2 separate regions of the Homo sapiens genome follow, and region 1 is linked to region 2. Evidence: fine-mapped expression QTL. A gene starts in region 2. The other region holds a variant in brackets. All regions are shown on one strand. Distances are from middle to middle.

Region 1 (9,568 bases), 50 kb after region 2:
ATTTTTTTCTGCAATATTTTTATGCCCTGTACAGTTTTCAGTATTTTTATTTCTAAATGTTGAATGTTTTTTGATGATATTGTAAATGGGATACAAAAATTATTGTCCATTTTTTTATTGGTACTGCATAAAAATTAAATTACTTTTAAAATTTTGGTCTTGCTAAATTGATTCCGTAAGGTTTTCTACATATGTGATCATATTATCTGCAAATAACAATGGTTTAAATTATTTTCTGGTATTCATGTGTTATATTTCTTTCTCTCTTTTTTTTTTTTGGGCTTATTTCACTGGCTATGACTTCTAGTATAATACTGAATAAAAGGGGTAAGAATGGATATAATTTCCTTACACAATGTTTTTGTTAGGTTTTGGTATCAGAGTTATATGAATGTCATGTAACAACTGGTGACATGTTCCCTCTTCTAACTTTTGAAAGTGCTTATCTAAGATTGGTATAAATTCTTCCTTAAATATTTACATAATTTATTGGTGAAGCTGTCTGAGCCTGGATAGTTTTTCTTGGTAGGTAGTTTATTATGAGTTTAATTTCTTAACAGACATAGGACCATTTAGATTTATTTCTTCTTACTTCAGTTCCGGTACATTTTATTTTTCAACAAATGTTTCCATCTTGTATAAATTGTTGATATTTTGGCATCCACTTGTTTATAAAATCTTCTTATTATTCTTTTAATATCTTTAAAATTTGCAGTGATGTCTCTTCTTTTACTCCTGCTTTTGGTGATTTGTGTTTTTTCCTCTTGCTCGATTTTGCCAAAAATTGATCAGTTCTATTAATTTTTTCAAGTATCCAACTTTTAACTTTTTTGTCTATTTTCTGATGTATTTATTTCTGCTATTAAATTTTATTATTTGTTTTCTTCTACTTAATGTTGCCTTGAATTTGTTATTTTTTTCTTGCTTCATTTTTTTTTTTGAATTGAGTTGTTGCTCTGTTACTCAGATTAGAGTGCAGGGGCATGAGCACAGCTCACTGCAGCCTCTACCTCCTGAGCTCAAGTGATCCTCCTGCCTTAACCTCCCAAGTAGCTAGGACTAAAAGTGTGTGCCATCACACCCAGATAATTTTTTATTTTTCAGTTGAGATGGGGTCTTACTATGCTGGCTAGGCTGGTCTCGAACTCCTGGCCTCAAAAAATTCTCCCTCTTCAGCCTCCCAGAGTGCTGGAATTACAGGCATGAGCCATCGTGCCTGACCTTTTTTTGCTTCTTAAGGTGAAAATTTAGGTCTTTGATTCAGTCCTTTTTTCTAATATAGACATTTAAAGCCCTAATTTTCCTCTAAGTCCAGATTTATCTGCATCCTACAAATTTTCTTATGTTGTATGTTTTTTATTCTTCAGTTGGAAATATTTTCTAATTTCCCTTTTTTTTTTTTCTTCTTTGACTGATGGGTTATATAGAAGTGGTTACTTAAATTTTGAAATATTACAAGATTTTCTAGATATCTAATTATAATTGATATCTAATTTCTATTGCAATCAGAGAATATTATTTTGATCCTTTGATATGATTTTGAACCTTTGTTTTTTTTAGATTTGTTTTGTGGCTCAGCATGTAATCTGTCTTGGTGAATATTTTAGGTGCAATTGAAAATAATGAGTATTTGCAGATTTTGGCTATAGTTTTTTATAAATGTCAAATTGGTTAAAAGTGGTATTTCAATCCTTTTATATCCTTACTGATTTTTTTGGGGTTTATTTGTTATATCATTTGCTGAGAGAGAGAGGTGTTATAGTCTCCAAGTATGAATGTGAATTTCTCTATTTTTCTCTTTAGTTCTGTCAATTTCTTCTTTTCGAATTTGGAAACTTTGTTATGAATATATATATATACATTTATAATGATTAGGTCTTCTACATAAATTGATCTTTAAAAAATGACAAAATACTCACCTTATCTCTGGTAATATTTGTTGTCTTAAAATCCACTTTGTCTGATTTTAATATAGCCCCCAGTTTTCTCATGTTTATTGTTTGCATGGAACATCTTTTTCTAATATTTTCCTTTCAATCAATCTTTCTCCTCCTCCTTCTCTTCTTCCTCCTCCTTCTCCTCCTTCTCCTCCTTCTGCTTCTTCTGCTTCTTCTTCGTCTTCTTCTTCATCTTTTTTTGTTGAGACAGAGTTTCACTCTGTTGCCCAGGCAGGAGTGTAGTGGTGCGATCTCAGCTTACCGCAACTTCTGCCTGCTGAGTTCAAGTGATTCTCCTGTCTCACCTTCCCAAGTAGCTGAGACTACAGGTGCACGCCACCATGCCCAGCTAATTTTTTTGTATTTTTAGTAGAGATGGGGTTTCATCATGTTGGCCAGGCTGGTCTCAAACTCCTCACCTCAAGTGATCCACCTGCCTCAGCCTCCCAAAGTTCTGGGATTACAGGCATGAGTCACCATGCCCAGCCCAATCTATCTTCTTTTATCTCTGTTTTTATATTAATAATTAACATGTTACTTTTAAATTGCATATAGGTAAGTCTTGCTTTTCTATTCAATCTGACAATTTCTGCCTTAAACAGTTGATGTATTTAATCTATTTACATTTACTACAATAACATTTATGATTGGGTTTAAGTTTATCATTCCGGTATTTGTCATATCTATTCATTGTACGTTGCTTCATTTTTTTCCTGTATTCTTTTAGGGTAAATCAAGTATTTTTTTATTACTCTATTTTGTCTTCTTTATTGACTTTGTAGCTATACTTTTTGTATTATTTTTATAGTGTTTGCTCTTTAGAAATTAGACTGTGTATTTTAAGTTATCACAGTTTACTTTCAAATACATTCCTAATGAATGGCAATGCAAGAAACAGCAATATAATTACATTCACCTGCTTCTTGCCCTTTATGCTATTGTTTTCATATATTTTACTTCTATTTATGCTATAAACTCCATAATATATTATCATTTTTGCTTTTAACAGTGAGTCTTTTTTTTCTACAGAAGTTGGAAATATACATATTGTGTGTGTGTCTGTGTGTGTGTGTGTGTGTGTGTGTGTGTGATGTCTAGGTATGGTTTTCCTTGTATTTATCTATTTGGGTTCACTGAGCTTCCTGGATCCATGGGTTGATTTTGGAAAGTACTTGGCTGCTATCTCAAAAAAAAGAAGAAAAAATACATTTTCCTTGTTAACATTCCACTTTTTTTCTTAGACTTATTTTGCAACTGGCTTCAAACAATTTGAAGAAAGGGTCATGGCTTTCCCTTCAGCAGAGTTTGGGATCTGAACACTGGTGAGATTCTAGAAAATTCTTTATGCTTTACAACATAGCTGCCAGCTTTTATTCTTCTTTTTCCCACTGGAGTGTTCTCTTTGCCCTCCAGCGTTGCCCCCAAATGTCTGCCTCTTGAGAGTTCTCCACCCAGTGGTCCTGCTTGCGTCTTTGGAGGACGGTAGCAGTGCGCTCAGTGGAGGCCACGGGTGCCTCAGAGGGATTTCTCTTGGACCTCCTGCCCTACCCCAGCTTCGGCGTTGCACTTGGAGAAGGCCCTGGATATCTCAGGGTAATCTACCATCCCTAGCCCTACAGCATACTGGCCCTGTGCACTAGATAAGAACAATAGCAGAGGGTTGTGGACTGGTACAGACACACACTCCCCAGGGTCTTAATCTGCCATGCCAACCCACTCACTGCTGCAATTCTATTAAAAGTTTGGTGGGGCTGGGTGCGGTGGCTCATGTCTATAATCTCAGCACTTTGGGAGGCCGAGGCAGGCAGATCACCTGAGGCCAGGAGTTTGAGAACAGCCTGGACAACATGGTGAAACCCTGTCTCTGCTAAAAATACAAAAATTAGCTGGGCATGGTGGCAGGCACCTGTAATCCCAGCTACTCGGGAGGCTGAGAAAGATAATCGCTTGAACCCGGAGGCAGAGGTTGCAGTGAGCCGAGATTGTGCCACTACACTCCGGTCTGGGCGACAGAGCAGGACTCTGTCTCAAAAAATAAAAAAATAAATAAATAAAATAAATAAATTTAAAAAAACAAAATTAATTAAAAAAAAAGTTTGGTGGTTTCTCCTTACCCCTATCCATGGCAGATTCATCTTTCTCTGCTCCTTCCCAGTGATGAAAATGTCTCTCTTCTTGCTAGGAAGGAATCTTCACTTTCTGAAATTTAGTTCATTTCACTTCTTTGCATCTGAAGCTCTCTGATAGGTTTTAAACAATTGTGATATTGTAGCTTACCTGGTTCATTCTCATTGTTAGGATGGGAGCAAGTCTTCAGCAATTTTTGGCAACCTAAATGGAAGTGGAGCTCGTTCTTTTTGTTTTTATTTATTTACTTTCTATTTCCAGTAACTAGATGCCGATCTATGCAGCTGGGATAGGAATAGATTTGAGTGATCCTAACTCAAAATCCCAATTCCTTTCCTATGTCAAAAGCTTTCTATTGGATAAAGCTCATAATCTGTGACTCCTTCTCTCACTTGCAGTTGCCCCCCAAGAGGCTCTTCAGAACCAATTAAATGGATTTCTGTCGGGCCCACCCGTCAGTGTTACAGAGATGTCTAAATCTCAATATTCAAGGCATGGCAAACTCCTCACCCGTCAGCTACCCAATGCATCTATTGTTACAGTAAGAATACACTGGAGAGGGGCAATCCCTCAAAAGCATTTTCAGCTTGGTGACATCAAGGCTTACAGAAAAGGGAGTGATTTCAGGGTGAGAGTAGGGTAGGAACACCTACCTACTAATGTTTCCTTGGTTTCTTCTCGGAGCTACCCTTTTCCACAGTTAATCCTGTGGTAACTCCTTGAGCTAGGTCTCATTTAACGCACAAGCATGCTGAGACTCCAAGTCGGGGTATAACTTGCTGGAGGTAAGTGGCAGAGCTGGGATTTGAACCCACATCTGACTCACTCTAAAACCTAGGCTTTTAAAATTTTTTCTTGACCAACATGGAGGAAGGCATGGC[A/T]GAAGACAGAATAGGCAGACCACTGCTCCCCGGTCAGGCCTGGGACTGACCTGGCAGGTGTCGGCCCTGGGGTCAGAACCACGTTGGAGGCTGTAGCTTCTGAGAACAGTGCTCTTCTGTCAGGACCCCACCTCACAATGGATTCAGGTACTCTCGTAACCTTGAGCAGTGCATTTAGTCTTTTTCTGAATATCAGCAGTTTTCTGAAAACTGGAGTTGTCCCAAATCCTTTGAAAACATTCGTGTGGGAAATTGGGAGCCACTCCTCCAAAGGTCACTGTCCCAATAACTGGATTTATAGAAAGGAAAGGACAGAAAGGAGCAGCCCCCACGTTCACCCCAGCCCCTGCCCATCCCAGTCTGCACAAACCTTCTTGCCACACCAGAGGCCACCTCACGCTTGGCCTCTTCTCCCTGGCACGGTGGCTTACACAGGAAAAGCCAAAGTGTAATTAGTTAATAGCAGAGCTCCTCTGTTAATGGAAAGGGCATTTCAAACTTACTTATGCAAACTGATACTGTGGGATTTGTCAGAAACCATCAATAGGATGCAACAGAGAGGACTCACAGGTCATTTGTCAAATGGGGACAAACCTTGTCTCATTTAAGCTTTGAGACCCAGAGTGGCTCTCTGAATTGCTGGCCTGCTGGGATGTAAGAGCACTGGGGGAGGAAGCTGGGACCCCTTTTTGGAGCATCTTTTCCCTCATAACAGTTCTGGTCAGGACTGCTACATACCCAACAGGCATGATCTCAGCTGTTCCTCACCACAACCCAATGAGGTAGTTACTAGTACTGTCCCTATTTTATAGCTGAGGAAACTGAGACTCAGACAGGTAAGTACCTAGACTAAGGTTAAGTATCTAGTCAATGGTGAGCCTGGAACATGAGCCCAAGATTGCTTGAATTCCAGGTCTAGGTGGTTAAACACTTTCCTGGTACCTTTCCATTCAGCAGTTGGCCTACTCTAAAACCTAGGTTACTAATAGAAGATGACAGGGGATCCTCTGAGACTGGTTATTTATCACCACACCTCTTTTCTCCTCTTCTTGGGCTCATGGCCACACTATATTTCCCAGACTCCCTTGCAGTTGGGTGTAGCCATGTGACTGAGAGCTGGCCAATGTCATGTGAGTAGAAGTGTTTCTCCTCTACCCCCTTAGGTGATCTTCATGCTCATTCCATGGCTAGAATGGAAGTGATTTCCAGGACCACCTTGAGAGCCATGTGTTGAAGGTAGTTGATCCATAAATCAGAAAGAGCCTGGGTCCCTGATTCACCACTTGGAGGAGAATGTTCCTACCAAGCATACCTGTATCACACTCTTTTATTGGGTTAACCCACTTATATATGAAGGTTTACCAGTTGTAGAAACTGATGTTACCTTAAGCTATGCAAGTGTTACCCATCAGGAAGGGGTTGGATGGCCACTGAGGAGCTGAGGGCATGACCCTGAATACTCCCTCTGATTAACTTGCCTAGGGAGGAAGGGGTGAGGAAGCTCGGTCTTTCTTGCTGCACAGATTCAGGTTTGGGTGCAAGGCTTAATGGATTAATGAACCTTGAACAATTTAATTTTTCTAAACATCGCTATTTTTCTGAAAGTTAGAATGATATTTGCATCATTCTGTATGAGTTTAATTTAGTCAACAGATTTTGTTGAGCACTTACTCTGTGTTGATAATTGATCTAGGTGCTGGGGAGAGGAGCAGTGAGCAAACACAAAATCCCTGCCTGTTTAGAACTGATCTTCTAGTGGTGGTGGTTGGGGCTGGGAGCAGCTGGACAGTGAATTACTAAGTAAGTATGCCATGTGGCGATTAGTGATGTGGGGAACTAATAAAGCAGAGTTGGGGGAGTGAGAATACCAAGCATGATGGGTGGAGGGCAGGTGGTCAGGGAAGGTGTGTCTACTTGCAGACATTTGAGCAGATACCTGAAGATAAAGAAGTGGGCCATGGAGATCTTTGGGGAAAGGGTGCTGCAGGCAGAGGGACTGGTCAGTGCAAAGGCCCAGGCCAGAGAGCATGTGTCATGTTGGAGGAGCAGCGAGGTGGCCAGTGTGGCTGGAATGGTGAGGGCCAGGGTAAGTGTGGTCATGTTGGAAAAAGCATCCTTCACACCACCTGCATATATGTAGATGGCCCACAAATGTTGAGTCCTTTCTTCCTAGATGACAGCTTTGTAGTCTCCCAGGGAAATCCTCATTGGTAAAAACAAACAAATAGATGAAAATTGAAGCAAATCAAACACAAATTTTCTTTATTGACTGGCTGATGCCTGAAATTTCACTAGGAGACATTGTCCTTTTAGTCCAAGGCTCTAGTTCCTGTATCATACAAATACTTCTGGCAAAGGATAACATTCCAAGCCATTTTGGTCATTAAACCTTAAAGAGGTTGATTTCAAATTTGGTTGAGGTTAGTGGAGGAGAAGGGTCTGAGAGATCTGGTTGCCTGGAGAGGATTGAAGTAAAGATCAAGAGAGGGCCAGGGAAGGAGGGCAAAGGGGTGTGTGTGGAAGCTTAAGCCTGTGTGTTTTGAAGCTCCTCTATGCTATAGCTTTATGTGGGTGTCAAAGGAATTTACATCTGCAGACATCACTGATTCTCAGAAAGGATTGCTCCTAACTCACAAGTTTGCTATATATTGAGTGAATGAATGAATTTTCTATATCCCCAGGAAGGGATGATCCTTGCCTCCCACCCTGTCACTGAAGACCAGGAGAAGAGTGATCCCCCGAAATGCCCTCAGCTCCTGAAATGCCCACTGTCAACATTCTTGGTTACAGACAACGGCAACACCTGTTTCAAGAATAAAATGGATCTATTGAATATTTGGGATCATTAGGAGTTGAGGGGCAGGGAAAGCAAATTCCAGGTTAAGTTTCCAGAAAAAGTGCCCCAACCGCACTGTAGAACTGGCCTGAAGATGAAACCACCATTGCAGCTACTGAGAACTCAATGATAAGAACTTGTCATTTCTACCCTGTGCACTGCTGCTTCCCAAGAACTGATGCTACCGTGTCAGCGAAGGGATTCCCTTGCTGAGCCCAGTTCCTTACACTGCTCACTTCATTTCTAAAGCAAAATCTTATGCAGGTGTGTACAAAGACAGAACTATGTCACAGGCCTGCATTCTAACTGCAAGAGAGGCTGGCAGTTTGAGTTGTGACTACAATGGGGAGGCAAGAATGCTATCATGAGATTTTCCCCCATTATAGAAAGGATTGGCAAAGATAGAGCCAAAGTTCCCTGTAGGAGATGTGTACAGAAGGTCTGATGAAAATTCGAAGTCTTATTCAGAACAAAAGGCCTAGATAACCTTCCAGGGACCCTGGAAAGAATGATGCCTAGGAAGGTGGCTTCTGTCATGAAGTGATCACCAACCATGGCAATGTCAACTGGGGAATGGCAAGGGGGAGTGCTGGGCATAGGGTCCAGCTCCCAGGAAACTAGAAGGAGCCCAGGAAGCTAGAAGGCAAGCTTATGTCAGCTTGGTCTTTTTAACAGGGCTCCACCCTGCCAAGAGAACAAGGCCTACATGGGAAATTATGAAGAACACACACACGCAAAAAAAAATCTGAGTTTGCTTTGTGTAGGGATTTAATTACTGACTTATCCTGATGCTTATGTATACTTGCAGCTTAGAAAAGTGAAGACATCTTTCTGGGACAGTTCTGGGAAACAGAAGCCCATGCGCACTAAAAGGAACCAAGGAATGTTTTCCATGTATCCTGAGCTGGACACCAAACAAATGTGTTCCTCTTTCTTTGCTCACTTAGAAGTCTTCTTCCTGTCCTGGGTTAATTGACTTCAACTTTGAAGGAGATGATGTTTATTTTCATCTTCGAATCTGACCTGATACCATTTAGAAATTATGAATAAATTTTAATACATTGGAACCCTATGTTAAACCACAATGCATGAGTGGATGAGTCACAATTCCAAGACAGCTCAATGCCCCACACAACTAAGACACAGATGACTTTGGTGCTCCCCAAATCACTTTCCCATGAAGGGCAAGGTTCTCTCGGCAGGGTGGGGCATGGTCAGAAAGGAGAACTTCAGCTTCTGCTTCAAAACAAGCTTCCAGGCTCAGATGGGCCCTGCTGTCTCAAACACTGCTCTTCACCCTGCCACGCTTTGTCCTTGCTGGGCTCGCCATCCTTCAAGGGCCCCCCTCCAGGAAGCTGCCCTCTCGTGGCAGGCATCTTGCTGGTAGCTCCCAATTATTTTGTGAGATGGGATGCAGAACAGAGTTGCTTTGGAAGCCCTGGAGGGTATTGAGGGTCTGACTTTTGGGCCGCAGGACCTCTGCAAAGCCTGATTCCTTGAAGACATCACTTTGACTTACTTGGTCCCAGAGCCTGTCTTGTTTTTAATTTCCCTGCTAAGTTTCTGTTCTCCAGCAACATATAACCCCCTTTTTCTACTTCAGTAACCTCAGTGGTAGCTCTCACCATGTTAAACAACGGTCTGATTTGGCATGGAAAAAAAGCAGTCAATTGTTCCCTTTAAATCTTAATGTTTTCAGCCCTGGGAACATTTGAAGTAACTATTTAATGAGAAGACTTCTGGTGAAGCATAGGTAAGATCTTAAAGGCTCTAATTGCTCCCCAGAG
Region 2 (9,568 bases):
TTCCCTCAAGACATCTCAGATATCATATGTAACCTTGACCCTGTGTCCCACAGCAACAGCGGTCATTGAGTGTAAAGCCTTTTCCTTGAGGATTGTGGTAGACAGAATGCCCCCCAAAGGTGACTATGCTTGAATCCATGGAAACTGAACATGTCACCTTCTATGGCAAAAGGGACTTTGCAGACGTGATTAAGGTTAAAGACCTTAAATTAGAGGGAGTACCCTGGACTATCCAGGTGTCTAATCTAATCCCATGAGACTTCAAATGCAGAGAGCTTTCTCTGGCTGGAGTCAAAGAGATGTGACAAAAGAGGTCGTCGGAGAGATTGGAAGTGTGAGAAAGACCCGACCTACTGTTTCTGGGGAGCCCACCTGGAAAGCACGAGAAGGGACACAGGCAACCTTTGGGAACAAAGACTGCCAGCCACAAGGAAAAGACAGCAGTCCTCTAGCCACAAGAAACCGAATTCAGCCAGCAACCTGGACAAGCTAGAAGAGCATTCTTCCCCAGAACCTTTAGGAGGAAGTGAGGCCTTGCAGATACCCTGATTTTGGCTTTTGAGACACTAAACAGAGGATCCAACTGAGTTCAACTGGCCCAGAAACTGAGATATGTTTGGACTGTTTTAAGTTGCTACGTTTGTGGTAATTTATTTTGGTGGCAACTGAAAATGAATGTAATTGTATATTAGAAAAATTGAAGGTAGAAGCTCTAATACTTTCTCCCCACACCCCAGTGGTTCATCATGTGCAGCACTCAGGGTGTGGAAATTCCATTTTGAAGACACCGTCTTCCAGGATTCTAACCCCCACCTGGGAAAGGTCCTGGAGAGAACTTCTAGCATGTATTTCTGAGCCATTCACATTTAACCCAGAGAGAGAAGGTGTCCTGCCCAAACGCAAAGCAGCATGGCGGTAGTTCTGGACATAACCTTAACAATTGCCAGGAACTCTCTGGATGTCCATCCATCAGCCCTATCTAGTCTTTTTGTCTGCATGGCATTGTGGGGGATGTGGCGATGAGGGCCAGGATCGCAGAAGTCAGAGTACCCGTGGCTGGAGCTTCCATTTTAAATGAAGTGTTCTTGCTTATGGCTTGATGGTATCCTTTCAGATTTTGCATCTGGCTGTACTCCAGATGTTTATATAGAAACTTCACAGTAGACATGATGGTGGCGTAGGTTTGCAGGAAGGATCCTTTCCTACTTACAGAGTGACCCAATGTGGCCGATCCCTTCAATATTTACAACAGCTGGGTGAGTGGAGGCATGATCAACTCCATTTACCCGTCAAATAAATGAAATTTCAGAGCGGTTACACAATCTGCTTGAGGTAACAAGGCCAGCAAGCCACAGAGCCAACATACCCCTGGTGCCTGGCTCCACAGGAGTCTGGGAAGAGGGAGAGGAAGATGGGGACAGGATGTATCACCAGGATGCTAGGGGAAGAGAGAATATTGACGTGTGGGGCAGCCTGCATCCCCAAATCAGGAGCACTGGGTGCTGCTGTGTTACAGTGAGTGTAGGAGCATGCCGTTCTGGGCTTCACTCTGCCCAAATATGTCTTGCTCATTTTCACCGCCATATGGCTGCTCGTCCCGGTCTGTTTGAGGTTCCTTCCTGTTCCCTCTCTGCCTCTAAGTCCTTCAAAAAGCCAACTGGAAGTGCCTCTTCCAGGCTTTCCTTAGCCTTTCTTTATTCCCTTGAACTTCTATTATGTTAATTGTTCAAAAGATTAGTTCTGACACTTACCCTATGCTGCTTTGTATTACTATTGGAAAACAACAGTAGCTCTCTCAACCCATTGGGTGGATGGTACATGCCATGCTTTATACATTCCCGTGGCCCTGCTGTACCTGGCACACACAAAAGGGGATTAATAAATATGCATATGTTGAATGAAAGAATGGAGAGATGCTGTTGATTTTCTTTGTTCTTCTTTCTTTTTCTCTGATTTCATGTCAAACATAGTTTTCTCCCTTAATAACAATAATTGTTTGTCTTATGTGTACAGTGGGAAATGTGAGCCTCCACAGCCTTAGCTGAATGACTAATAGTATATCCACTTCTGCCTGAGCCAAAAATGTTAAATTGGTTTAAAGATACGGTATAAAAAAGGCCAAGCTGTATCAGGCTTGGCTCAGCCTTGGAAGAGCCACAACACCAACATACTATTTTCACGGTGTGTGTGATTTCAGGCTCTGCTCCCAAGCTTCCACCACACAGGACCAGCTGAGTTAACATACTCAGTGGGTAGCCCTGGCCATCCTAGGCTGGCCTTTCCTGGGCTCCCACTGACCAGCAAGTCAAGCCCCATGCCCCCTGCCTGGCATTCAATGCCTGCAAAAAGAACTTTGCAAATGTTCCAGCCTACTTGGTCTCCTGGATTTCCTTGCACATGGCATGTTCATTTCCACCTCGGAGCCCACTTAGGTCAGTGCCTTCATCAGAAGAATTTGTTTTCCATCCATCCCTCCCAACTTCAACTATGTTGCTTTTTTAAAAAGCCATTCTTGGAGATTTTCATCTAACTGAGTTTTTCTCTCCCTGATCACTCACAGGTCCCACTGTTTGTCCCACAGATTTTTTTCCATGATGGTCTTTTTTAATTTTTAATTTTTATTATTTAGTTGTTAAATTTTACTTTAATTTCTGGGATACATGTGCAGAACGTGCAGGTTTTTTACATAGGTATACACGTACCATGGTGGTTTGCTGTACGTACCAACCTGTCATCTAGTTTTTAAGCCCCACATGCATTAGGTATTTGTCCTAATGCTCTCCCTCCCTTTGCCCCTGCCCCCTGCCCCCCTGTCTTTATGAATTAAGTGAAAAAGTGTGTATTAAGCACTTACATGTGCTCATTCCTCTGTCCGGTGCTTGAGGGGGCTCCAGAGGAACAGGAGCTGCCAGTGATTGATACACAAGGTGCTGGGTATGAGCCCTTTCCTTCCTGGCTTTATGTGATCAGCAAACATTCCTGTGACCATGAAATTCTACTAGGAAGAGCAATCCTACAGCAGCTTTTGTGCACATGCACAAGGAGACATGCAGAAGGTGCTTCTTGCAGCCTTATTTGTAAAACTGTAGAACAACTTGAATGCCCACTGAGAGGAGAAGGGATAAATAAGTTGCAGTGAATTCATATAGTAAAATCCTATAAATAGTCCTACATATAAGTTGTGGTAAAGTCATATAGTGAGTTCCTATACAGCAGTTAAGATGAATTAACTGAAGTTACATGTAATAACTCACCTAAATCTCAGCAAATTTGATGTTGAAAAAGAGTGATCAGCTGTAGAAGTGAAAGTACCATATAATACCATTTATATGAAATTTTAAGACCCACTAAACAATACTGTATATGGATATACACATATTATGTTTCAGTATTAAAATATGCATGGGAATGATATATACCAAGGTTGGCAAATTATGCCCATGGCCAAGTCCAGCCCACCACCTGCTTTTGCGTGGCTTGTGAGCTAAGAATGGGTTTTACAATTTTAAATAGTTGAAAAAAAATCAAAAGAAGGACACTCTTTGGTGACACCTGAAAATTATATGAAATTCAAATTCCAGTGTGCATAAATAAAATTTGCTGGAACACCACCACACTTGTTCTTTCACTTATCAACTATGGCTGCCTTTGTACTCCAAGGACAGGGTTGAATACTTGCCACAGACCGTGTGGCCTGCAAAGGTGCAACTACTTACCATCTGGCCCTTTTCAGAAAGTTTTCCAAGTCTTGATCTATATCAGACTTGGGGGAATGGTTGCCTCTGGTAAGGAAAGGAGAGGAATGGAACTGGGGCAGGAGTGCATCAGTTACAACATTTTATCTCTTAAGCTGCTGGTGGGTTATATATTAATACTTACATTTTGGATGTCTAAAGTATTTTGTAGTTTCAAAAAAAAGTAGAAGACAAACTTCTCACCTCCTAGAAAACCCATAGTAGGTATTATTATGGCTCCCAGTTCACAGTCAGGTATTATTATAACCTACAGTAGGTATTATTATAACCTAGCCCAACCCAGGTTGCCAAAGTTCTATCTCTCTCTCTCTCTCTCTCTCTCTCACTTTCCACGAGGCAGGCAGCCCCAGGCTCACAGGCCAGCAGCTGAGATGAGAAGACATGGGGTTTTTCAATGACTTCAGCAGACTGTACCGGGAGGATTTGGCTAACTGGGCTTGGATCACTGGCCCCTTCCTGCCGGCAGCCCTTCCTCAGATGAGAAAATTCACAGATGAGAAAGCGAAACTTAGAGGGTGCATGGATAGTGAATGCTGGAAGAGGATTAACCTCAGGACCTTCCATCCCAGCACCTCTGGAGCACTGGCCTGCGTTGCCAGTGCTCTTCAGGCCAGCTGGGGGGAAGGGACTGAATGCCAATCTGCTCTGGGATGAACATCTGCCTCCAGGAGACAGTTGTTTAATGAAATTTCCCACCCATGTGATTAGCATCCTCTGAGAGTGAGATGAGTAAAACAGGCTACCACCATCAACATCATCTCTGACTGCACTGCCTAGACAGTAATAACACCCAAGATTTTTAGAGCTTTCTGTTTCTCAAAGTCATGCCCACTGATTCACTCAGGAACCCGGCAGGAAGCAAGGCAGTCCTTGATTGCCCATGTCGTTGAGATGGTAAAAGGGGTATTCTGAGCAACTGTTGAGTTCTTTTACATCCCTGGGATGGCATGGTCACAAAGGCCAGACACCGGGCCTGACTTCAAGGTCACTGTGGCTGCACTACTGAGTGACTGTGGACAAGTCTCACATTCTCTTGAAGACTCAGGAGCCTCCTCTGTAAAGTGGAGATGATAATTATTTCCCACCGCATGGGTGTGTTGTGGGGATTAAATGAGATCATACAAGTGGAATGCTGAGCACCAGTCCAGGAAGGCGAGGGGCACGCCCTACATGTCACCTACTGGATCATTGCTGTTTTCAGGGTTCCTATTACCCAAAGATCCACCTAGAATTCTTCCCCTGAGTGCTGTTCATCTTCGTCAAGGCTCAGCAATGTTTTGGATGATTCTCCTTTGACATAGCTCTGGTGCTTGTTAATACTAAATGTTTTCCAGCTTACCTATAAGGAAACTGAGTCTTAGGAAGCAATTGCAGGGCCTCTACTTTGTGCATGAGAATGAGTGACGGCTGGGGAAACCTGGGATTTGGCCTGATGTTCAAGCACTGGCACCTGCCTGCCTTTTCTCTGTAAACATCTGACCCTAGAATGCTCCACCAGGGCGAGACCATCATCACCAAGCAGCAGCTGCATGGTATTTATCAAAGGAGGCGTGGTTTCCTTTGCTGTGGCTCTCCGCATTCGTGGCAGTTATTCATTTTTGAAGCAGAGGTCACTTTTCTTTCACTGGTGAGGTACTTTGACAAAGACGAAGAAGGGAGACAATGGTAATGATGGTGGAGTCAGGGGGAAGTGGGGATGGGATTGGCATTGGGTTTGAAGGCTGACAGTCAGAGGAAGGGGAGGGACTGAGGATAAAATACTTGCTGTGCTCATGTTGTCCAAGAGTTTGCATTCTCTGGTAGTCAGTGATCAAATGAAGCAGGGAGTTTCGTGTTCAAAAGCAGCACCTACAGGTTCTTTATAGAGGCTTGCCAGAAGATGAATGCCTTGGCTAGAATTTGTAGGCAGGCTTATTTAAGTTACAAGTGACAGACACTCAAACTAATAATAAACAAAAAGGGAATAATTGGCTCATGTAACTGGGAAGTGCAGAGGAATATGGGATACAGGAACAGCTGGATCCAGGGGTTGGCACCAGGTTGTCAGGGTTTTTTTTTTTTTTGAGACGGAGTCTCGCTCTGTTTCCCAGTTCAGTGGTGCAATCTTGGCTCACTGCAACCTCTGCCTCCTGGGTTCATGGGATTTTCCTGCCTCAGCCTCCCAAGTAGCTGGATTACAGGCGTGTGCCACTATGCCCGGCTAATTTTTGTATTTTTAGCAGAGACGGGGTTTCACCATGTTGGCCCGGCTGGTCTTGAACTCCTGACCTCAGGTGATCCACCCACCTTGGCTTCCCAAAGTGCTGGGATTACAGGTGTGAGCCACTGTGCCCGTCCCAGGTTGCCAGGGTTCTGTCTCCCTCTCCCTCTCTCACCTTCCGTGAGGCAGGAAGCCCCAGCTCACAGGCCAGCAGCTGAGATAAGAAGTCATGTCCTTTTTCAATGACATCAGCAGACTATACCAGGGAGGGTCTGGCTAACTGGGCCTGGGTCATTAGCAGCCCTGCCTCAGGAGAGGAGCTATCTACTATGCAACACAGGGCAGTACAAGCCTCGGTTCCTCCCTGTCCACCTAGTCATGAAAATGAGGATGGTTTTGGTGGTTAGCATGTTCCCTCTTAACTTGCCTCAGCATCATCTGCAAAAACTAGAAAATATAAGTGTGCATATTTTTAGCTGTTTTTAAATTTGTAAAACTGGAAACTGTTAAGATATTTACTTAGAACAAGAAAACCTACTGTGCCCTGAGTGAAGTTCACTTAAGCTGCCTCACAGTTACTCCTTGAGTCCTCACTGTCCCGCAGTCTCCTTTCCGCTGAGTTGGGGTGAGTTCTAACTTCAATTTTGCCTGTGAATGTAAATCAAATCTGACCTCCCGTCTCCAGTACATCAAGGGTGTACTCACAGGGACCTAGAAAATATTATATATGGTCCCCTAGAGCTCAAACCCAAGTTGTCTGGGGACAGAGAAGCAACTTTGGGCCATTCCAGGGAAAAGCTCTGGCCACCCTGTAGTAAATCTTCTCCCTTCCTTTCCTTTCAATGGAGGAGGAAGCTTGTCCTTTGCATGAGCATGAAAAATACTAAATTTGGACTTTTTGGAGGTTTTCATTTATGAAGTAGAGTCTATATATTTGGCTCAAGTCTTGCCGGCTGCCCTATTTTCATAGTCCCAGGATCAATATGAGGTTAGTCCATTTGTCTTCTGGAAAAATGTTGTGGCTGGGCTATGTGGCTCACACCTGTAATCCCAGCACTTTGGGAGGCCAAGGTGGGTGGATCACTTGAGATTAGGAGTTCCAGACTGGCCTGGGCAATGTGGGGACACTCTGACTCTAAAAGAAATAGAAAAATTAGGCATAATGGCACATACATTGTGGTCCTAGCTGCTTGGGAGGCTGAGCTGGCAGGATTGCTTGAGGCTGGGAGGTTGAGGCTGTAGGGAGCTGTGATTGTGCCACTGTACTCCAGTCTGTGTGACAGAGTGAGGCCCTGTCTCCAAAAAAAAAAAAAAAAGAAAAAAGAAAAAAGAAAAATGTCGTGCAGTCTTGCAGAATCTTCATGTGATCTTGCTTTGAGGCTATTAGAAAGTTCTTTCATACCCTTCCTCTGTGCTTGGCTGGAAGCCTTTTCCCCTAATTTTGGCACCTCCACCTTGAGTCACCTTGCAGTAGGTGGGAAGTGTTTTCCTTTTACAGGTTGGCCACACAACTGCCTCATCTCCTGTCCTGCACGAGGGCCACCACAGCTCTCCCCTTTCCTTTCCTTTCGTTTCGTTTCCTTTCCTTTCCTTTCCTTTCCTTTCCTTTCCTTTCCTTTCCTTTCCTTTCCTTTCCTTTCCTTTCCTTTCCTTTCCTTTCCTTTCCTTTCCTTTCCTTTCCTTTCCTTTCCTTTCCTTTCCTTTCCTTTCCTTTCCTTTCCTTTCCTTTCCTTTCCTCTCTTCTCTCTTCTCTCCTCTCCTCTCTTCTCCTTTCCTCTTCTTTTCTTTTCTTTTTGAGATGGAGTCTCATTCTGTGGCCCAGGCTGGAGTGTAGTGGCACGATCTCAGCTCATTGCAACTTCTGACTCCCAGGTTCAAGTGATTCTCCTGCCTCAGCCTCCCTAGTAGCTGGATTACAGGCATGCGCCACCATGCCCGGCAAATTTTGGTATTTGTAGTAGAGACGGGGTTTCACCATGTTGGTCAGGCTGGTCTCGAACTCATGACCTCAAGTGATCCATCTGCCTCAGCTTCTCAAAGTGCTGGGATTACAGGCGTGAGTCACCGCGCCTGGCCCAGATTGTTCTATCTCCCTCTCCCCTATCACTTTCCATGAGGCAGGCAGCCCCAGGCTCATAGGCCAGCAGCTGAGATGAGAGGACATGGCCTTCTTCAATGACATCAGCAGACTGTACTAGGGAGGGTCTGACTAACTGGGTCTGGGTCACTGGCCCCTCCTTGCCAGCAGCCCTTCCTCAGGAGAAGAGCTGTCTACTGTGCAGCACAGGGCAATACCAGCCTCAGGTCCTCTCTGTCCAAGGATTTAGTTGGCTTCAGGGAAGGCCCTTGTAATGACCTGAAGATGGAAATGAAGAGGTCAACTTCACCAGCACCAGCCACCTGTCCAGAATGTCTCAGCTTGTGTTTCTTCCTTTAAGATTCAGAAGGGTAAAAGGGAGCCACCAAACCTCATTTGGAGGGTCTGTCATTCTTTGCTGTTACTAGCCACTTCTCTGGAACACTTGTGTCCCTGTATTAGTTAGATGCTTGCAGTTTAAGGGGACTATGGCGTAATCCCATTGCTTTAGGTGATGGAGGATTATTGGAAGGACACCCTGGGAGGTGGGGAAGAACAGTAAATCTTCTCAGCAGTCACAGCTGGGCTTCACCGAGAACTGGAGTATCGTCCATGGCCATATAGGATTTGACAGGAGTTTGTGTAATCTAGTAAATAAAACCCCATGTTCCATAATCAAACTGCTGGGTTCACATTGCAACTCTGCCCTTTACCACTGTGTCACCTCTCTAGCCTCAGTTTCCTACCATCTATACAGTGGTGACAATAATAGCACTGACCATGTGGGGTTCCTTGTCAAGTTTCGGTGAGATCCTGTGCACAAGGACCTAACAGTGCCAGGCAAAAAGTTATGCTCAATGAGTATTGTTGTCAACTGTGGCTCCATGGACACTGTTATTATGAATACTTGTTATTAACAGGGGCTTTGCCCCACAAATGTAAGTCCATTTTTGTCCACTCTCGTGTTGGGGAGTTGGAGTGCTGGCTACTCTTTTCTGTTCTGTCACATGTACCATTACTCTTTGACGACAGCTCCCCATGTCTCAGTCAGATGTCCCAATAGAAGATCTGATTGGCTCTGCCAGGTGTTATCTAGTTTTGGGCAGCCCTACTGGGCATGTGGGGCCCTAATGTTCACACTGGGCCACCTTTTTGGCCTGTTTGCAGCCTATGAATTACCCCCTTGTTTGGTGGATTATGGCCAGAACAGTCTATAACTGAGAATCCCCTCAGACTCTGGGCAGAAAGGCATCTTGCAGAGCCGTTCCAATGCGACACCTCTAGAGTGTCATCCCCTAGAATGTCACCTTGGAAAGACTCTGCAAGATGCCTTGTTAACCATCATGGACCCTGTTAACCATTGTGGGCTAGCATGGTTCTACAAAGACACCTGTGCTCTGCTAGTGAGGGCCCTAACCCATCTCACCCCCTATGGATCCCTCCCTGATTCTGCTGGGATTCCTGCTCACTTTTCCTCTCACATGTTCCCAGCCTCGAGCAAAAATGAGGTATCTGTATTGGAAGCTAGAAATGCTG

Evidence for each region. PIP is the estimated chance that this variant, and not a neighbour inherited with it, causes the effect.
Region 1: its variant is the best candidate, but not a certain one, in a credible set for the expression of MIR4432HG in whole blood (TOPMed, PIP 0.81).

The regions. Positions count from the first base shown.
Region 1 is chr2:60,336,779-60,346,346 of GRCh38, reverse strand. No RefSeq gene overlaps it. Among named protein-coding and RNA genes, the nearest start is that of MIR4432, 46 kb to the left of the region's middle. RefSeq lists an enhancer at 9,163-9,352. The variant A/T (reference allele first, on the strand shown) is at 4,946.
Region 2 is chr2:60,387,158-60,396,725 of GRCh38, reverse strand. It overlaps MIR4432HG (MIR4432 host gene), which reads left to right and starts at 5,351. Exons shown (of 2, transcript NR_132992.1): 1 at 5,351-5,420. It overlaps LOC102724142 (a long non-coding RNA gene), which reads left to right. Exons shown (of 2, transcript XR_007086327.1): 2 at 1-1,903. MIR4432 (microRNA 4432) reads left to right here and starts at 9,281; the gene lies at 9,281-9,364.